2 separate regions of the Homo sapiens genome follow, and region 1 is linked to region 2. The links come from fine-mapping of genetic effects on gene expression. A gene starts in region 2. The other region holds a variant in brackets. All regions are shown on one strand. Distances are between the middles of the regions.

The links. PIP is the estimated chance that this variant, and not a neighbour inherited with it, causes the effect.
Region 1: its variant is fine-mapped to the expression of PRKAB1-AS1 in skeletal muscle (GTEx, PIP above 0.99).

The regions. Positions count from the first base shown.
Region 1 is chr12:119,568,783-119,571,698 of GRCh38, reverse strand. All of the region lies in intron 1 of PRKAB1-AS1 (PRKAB1, TMEM233 and CCDC60 antisense RNA 1), which reads left to right. Among named protein-coding and RNA genes, the nearest start is that of TMEM233, 24 kb to the left of the region's middle. The variant G/T (reference allele first, on the strand shown) is at 1,411.
Region 2 is chr12:119,666,786-119,669,701 of GRCh38, reverse strand. PRKAB1-AS1 (PRKAB1, TMEM233 and CCDC60 antisense RNA 1) reads left to right here and starts at 1,575. Exons shown (of 3, transcript NR_188494.1): 1 at 1,575-1,759. PRKAB1 (protein kinase AMP-activated non-catalytic subunit beta 1) reads right to left here and starts at 1,569. Exons shown (of 7, transcript NM_006253.5): 1 at 1,299-1,569. The coding sequence starts at 1,457. RefSeq lists enhancers at 239-874, 1,313-1,722 and a silencer at 1,823-2,092.

The DNA of each region.
Region 1 (2,916 bases), 98 kb after region 2:
CACCATTATATAGTGTTTCTACCATATATATGCTATAGAAAGAAATAACCTCGAAGCATCAATAATAATAAAATATTGTAAAATAATTGGAAAACATTGAATTTTTATTATCTTTGTTTTATTTATTTATTTATTTATTTTTGAGTGGGAGTCTCACTCTGTTGCCCAGGCTGGAGTGCAGTGGCACAATCTTAGCTCACTGCAAACTCTGCCTCCCAGGCTCAAGTGATCCTCCCACCTCCGCTTCCTGAGTAGCTGGGATTACAGGTATGCGTCACCACACTTGGTTAATTTTTGTATTTTTAGTAGAGACAGAGTTTCACCATGTCAGCCAGGCTGGTCTAGAACTCAAGCGATCCACCCACGTTCGCCTCCCAAGGTGGTGGGATTACAGGCAGGAGCCATAGTGCCTGGTCATCATCTTTGTTTTAAATATAATTTATTTAATTGTAAGTTCATATAATCATTTTAAATAATGGCTGCATTTAACAGGTGGTTCACAGAATTAATGTAAATTTAACAACTGGCTCCTCAGAAGTTGATATGAGCCAGCTCTGGCACATCACTGGGTTCAGTCTTCATGAGGTTTGTCTTATTTCTGGTTTGCCCTCACTTTTGGCGTCTTATTTCTGGTTTGCCCTCACTTTTGGCGTATAGCCCTTTTCAGTGAAAGGGACAGCCCTTTCATTGAAATTCAAGTGAAAGCCTGGGTGTGCTTTCCTGTTATATGGTTTGGCTCTGTGTCCCCACCCAAATCCCATCTCGAACTGTAATCCTCACGTGTGGAGGAGGGGAAGTGATTGGATCACGGGGCAGTTTCCCCCATACTGTTCTTGTGATAGTGAGGAAATTCTCACAAGATCTGATGGTTTTAAAAGCAGCAGTTTTTCCTGTGCTCTCACTTCTCTCTCCTGCTGCCACGTAAGATGTGCCTTTGCTTCTCCTTTACCTTCTACCGTGATTGTAAGTTTCCTGAGGCCTCCCCAGCCACTCGGAACTGTGAATCAATTAAATCTCTTTCCTTTATAAATTACCCGGTCTCGGGTAGTTCTTTATAGCAGTGTGAAAACAGACTAATGCAACCTGTGACCTTTCTCCTTGTTAGATCCTGAGCTCTTATTTTGCTTCTCCAGTACTGTTGTGATGGTGGAAAGCTTTGCTAAACAGCTCAACCTCTTATATCCACTTTCTTCTCAGTTTCTTAGCTTGGTGCTATTGACAAATTGGCAGAAGATGGCATAGAATGTCAGACTAACCTCGGCGGGCTCAGAGAACTTTAACCTCTTAAGCCCTGGCTGCTTTGATATCTTTGCAATGCCTTCAGATAGATTTTTTGGGCATTTATTAATCTTTTCAAATTGCTTTTGCCAGGAACATTCTGATACAGGCTAGTTCATCAGAACCAGAAGT[G/T]AAGTCCCCTGTTTATGACGTTGTAAGTAGAAGTTTTTATATTGCCAAATATATCTGAGCATAGAACTCAGTTTTCCTTTATGATAACTCGTTTAGAAATCCTTTATTAAACTCAAGGTCATTCATATTTTCTTCAAAAATTTAGACTTTTATTTTCACATTTAAGTCTTTTTTTTTTTTTTTTTTTTTGAGACGGAGTCTCATCATCCAGGCTGGAGTGCAGTAGTGTGATCTCAGCTCACTACATCCTCCGCCTCATGAGTTCAAGTGATTCTCCTGCCTCAGTCTCCTGAGTAGCTGGGATTACAGGTGCACACCACCAAGCCCAGCTAATTGTTGTATTTTTAGTAGAGATGGGGTTTGGCCATGTTGGCCAGGCTGGTCTTGAACTCCTGACCTCAAGTGATCCACCTGCCTCGGTCTCTCAAAATGCTGGGATTACAGGTGTGAGCCACCATGCCCGGTCTCACATTTAAGTCTTTAATCCATTTGGAGCTGTATTTTTTAATAGTGTGAAGTAGAAATCAAATTAAAAAAAATTTTTTTACAGATAGCTTATTGTCCTAGTGGTGTTTATAGAGTAGGGGTATACTTTTCCTAGTGACCTGTGATATTTCTTTTGTCGTATGTCTAGTACTGTGTCTGCACTCTCTACTCTGTTTAATTAAACTATTTTTAATATTTTTGCACCAATAAAGTACTATCTTAATTGCTATAGTTTTCTAAGGTAAGTCTTGATTTCTTTTTCTTTTCCAAAAAATGTCGTGGCTGTCTTTGGCTTTTTTCTCTTTTGGAATTAGCTTTTCAAGTTTCACAAAAAACTTTATTAGAATTTCATTTGAAATTGCCTGAATATTTATATAATCAATTTGGGGAGAAATGTCTTTCTTGATATAAATATGTCTTTAATGTCTTTCAAGGGAGTTGTATAGTTGTATAATTTTCCACTTGAGGCTCTGCTTATTTTTAAAATATCTGTATTTCTGGCTACCAGTTTATTTTGCCATCATCATTGAGTATTTTATTTTATTATTTATTATTTTTTAAGAAGGAGTCTCGCTCTGTCACCCAGGCTGGAGTGCAGTGGCATGATCTCGGCTCACTGCAACCTCTGCCTCCTGGGTTCAAGCCCAGCTAATTTTTGTATTTTTAGTAGAGATGCAGTTTCACCGTGTTGGCCAGGCTGGTCTCGAACTCCTGACCTCAAGTGATCCGCCCGTCTTGGCCTCCCAAAGTACTGGGATTACAGGCGTGAGACACTGTGCCTGGCCTGTTGAGTATTTTAAATGTTATATTTCTGTTTGTTGTTGATGCAGATAAATACAGTTAAATTTTATATCACTATTATATTCAATTACCTTGCTAAATTGCCTAATTTATTCTAATAATTTATAGAGTCTTTGCAGTTTCTATGTGAATAATCACATTCATTGCAAATAATTCATTTTGTTGCCATATTTTAATCATTCTACCTTGGTTTAATTCATCTCGTATTATTGCATTGGC
Region 2 (2,916 bases):
CTCGGGAGGCTGAGGCAGGATGGTTTGAGTCCGGGAGACGAAGGTTGCAGTGCCCCGAGATTGTGCTACTGCCCTCCAGCCTGGGCAACAGAGTGAGACTCCATCTCAAAGAAGGAAAAAAAAAAAATAAGTAGGGTGGGTTCAGTGGCTCACGCCTGTAATCCCAGCACTTTGGGAGGCCGAGGCAGGCGGATCTCCTGAGGTCAGGAGATGGAGACCATCCTGGCTAACACGGTGAAACCCCGTCTCTACTAAAAATATAAAAAATTAGCCGGGCGTGGTGGCGGGTGCCTGTCGTCCCAGCTACTCGGGAGGCTGAGGCAGGAGAATGGCGTGAACCTAGGAGGCGGAGCTTGCAGTGAGCCGAGATCGCGCCACTGCACTCCAGCCTGGGCGACAGAGCGAGACTCGGTCTCAAAAAAAAAAAAAAGTAGGCTGAACCGGCCAGCACCGTAGCTCACGCCTGCGATCCCAGCACTTTGGGAGGCCAAGGCATAAAGATTGCTTGAACCCGGGAGTTCGAGACCAGCCTGGAGAACATTGTGAGACCACCGTCTTTTTTATTTTTATTTATATTTTTTTTTTGAGACGAAGTCTAGCTCTGTCGCCCAGGCTGGAGTGCAGTGGCGCGACCTCGGCTCACTGCAAGCTGCGCCTCCCGGGTTCACGCCATTCTCCTGCCTCAGCCTCCCGAGTAGCTGGGACCACAGGCGCCCGCCACCACGCCCGGCTAATTAGTGAGACCACCGTCTTTTAAAAAATAAGTAGGGTGAATCAAAAGTGTTGGGCAGAACTAAACACCTCTGGCAACTGCCGTCAGCTGTTCCGCTCTACTTTCAGCTTGTATATGTACCTGGTTTGCCTCCAAAATGGATAAATTCCCAAACTAACTTTTACAAAAGCTCCAGTTTGTGTAAAGGTGAGGGAATTTGTCTCAAAGCAGTGCAATTAATTACACCTAAGAGAAAAGCAGAAGCTGGGGCTCAATTACTGTTAGCTCGACTCTGAATTAATTAAGAATTTGAAACTCTGTCCCAGAGCTGCTTTCTCCTTAATGATGTTAAACCAAGTGAGCACCTCCTCCCTCAGGGTGACTTTCTCATATTGGTAATTAGACACAGGTTCTTGGACCGCTAAGAGAACTCTTACAGGACCATCTGGCTTTTAAGTGCACCGGGTAATGTACCACCTCCCTCTCCGTTCTGGTGTTTTTCGAAAGGATGTGACGGGAATCTAGTGGAGGGTTCCTCTCCTCAACATTAGTCAAGGGGAATCGGGTTCCTCCACACCGCTCGCACCTTGATTTCCTCGGAGTGGAAGAGGTCGGCGTCTTCGGGGCTGTCCATCAGGATCTTGGGCCTGTCCCCGTCCTTGGTGCCCCCCGAGCTGTCCCTCCGGGGCGTCTTATGGCCACCATGCCGCTCCAGCGCGGCGCGCTCACTGCTGGTATTGCCCATGATGGGGGTCTGCGGGGACACAGGGAAGGCGGACGGCGCCTCACTGCAGGAAAGGGACCCTGAGCAAGGGACTCCCGGAACCGCGGGTCCCAAGGAGCCTGCGGAAGGAGTCGGAGCACCAGGACACCACGCCCCTCGGGCCGGGAGCCGGTTCCGGCTGAGTCGGCAGGGTTGCCGAGCTCTCGCAATCGCGCTTTACCTGCCCAGGCAAGCCGCGGCAAGAACGCAAGGGGCGCGAAGATAAACCGACACTTTCCCAACCGCTTCACCACCCCTCAGCGACTTCCGCTTCCGGCGACTCCGTAAGTCGGCCCGGCCTAGGGCGTGGAGGTGGCGGCGGCCAGCTAAACGCGCGAGGCTATCTCGATTCCATTTCCGCTTCCGGTCTTGAGCGGTGCGGTAACAGGTGCCCCGGGCCGTCTCTGCAGGCCTCGGAGCGCGCAGTCGCAGTCAGCAGCCGGCCGCCCAGGGCCAGGCCCAGGACGAGGCGCTGCCGAGGGCCGGCAGGGGGCACCCCAGCGCGCGGGCAATCTGAGCCGTTCATGCGCTGGGCTGAATAATGCCATTTAGCTATCTTTGCTCACTTATAGTTGATTCTACACTCTGCAGCCAGAGGGATCTTTCTAAAATGCAAATCTGATTCAGAAACTCCACTTCTTAAAGCCCTTTTAATGCACGTGTTCTCACGCTTTACAGTGCATTAGGTTAACCTGGAGCGCTTGTTAAATGCATCCCCCACTGCAGACCTGCAGAATCATGATTTCTACAGATTAGGGTCGGGGGTGCAGGCAGTCTTGCAGGTATTTGAAAAAATGGCAGACCATAAGATCTCTGGAAATTTCTTATGTCTAGTAGGTTGGGGGTTGTAAAATGCTGGAGTTATTCGTGTATTTTTATTGAGTGTGCAATCTTTTGATAGGTAATTTTGCAAGATATCTTGTAATCACTTCGGAAACATCCTTCTGCATAAGATGCATTAGCGTTTGTCATTTACTCTGGTCAGTGCTTCAACAAGAAGTGCATACAAATACGGTAGTAAAATATTCTCATCTTCTCATTGTCAGTCATTGTCATATTTTGTGGGTTTTTTGGTGTGTGAATATCTCAAAATACTTTGCATTTGCCGGGTCAGGTCATGCATTTCACCCACTGAACATTTATTTAGTACCTAAAAAAGTACCAGACATTGTGCTAAGGAAATGAGGAACACAAGATGACTAAGATAAGGTTTCCTGGGGGGAATTCAGCAGTATGCATCAAAATTTAAAAATGCACCTTCATTTTGACACACAATTTTACTCCTAGGAAACTTGTGCAGAAATACACACATGAAAATTATTTACAAGCATTATCTACAAAATATTTACATGCAAAAATATATTCTAAGATGCACTTGTCACCCCCCATGCCCCCATATATTTTAATTTCTGAAACTGGATGCTTTTTACAATAATGGAAT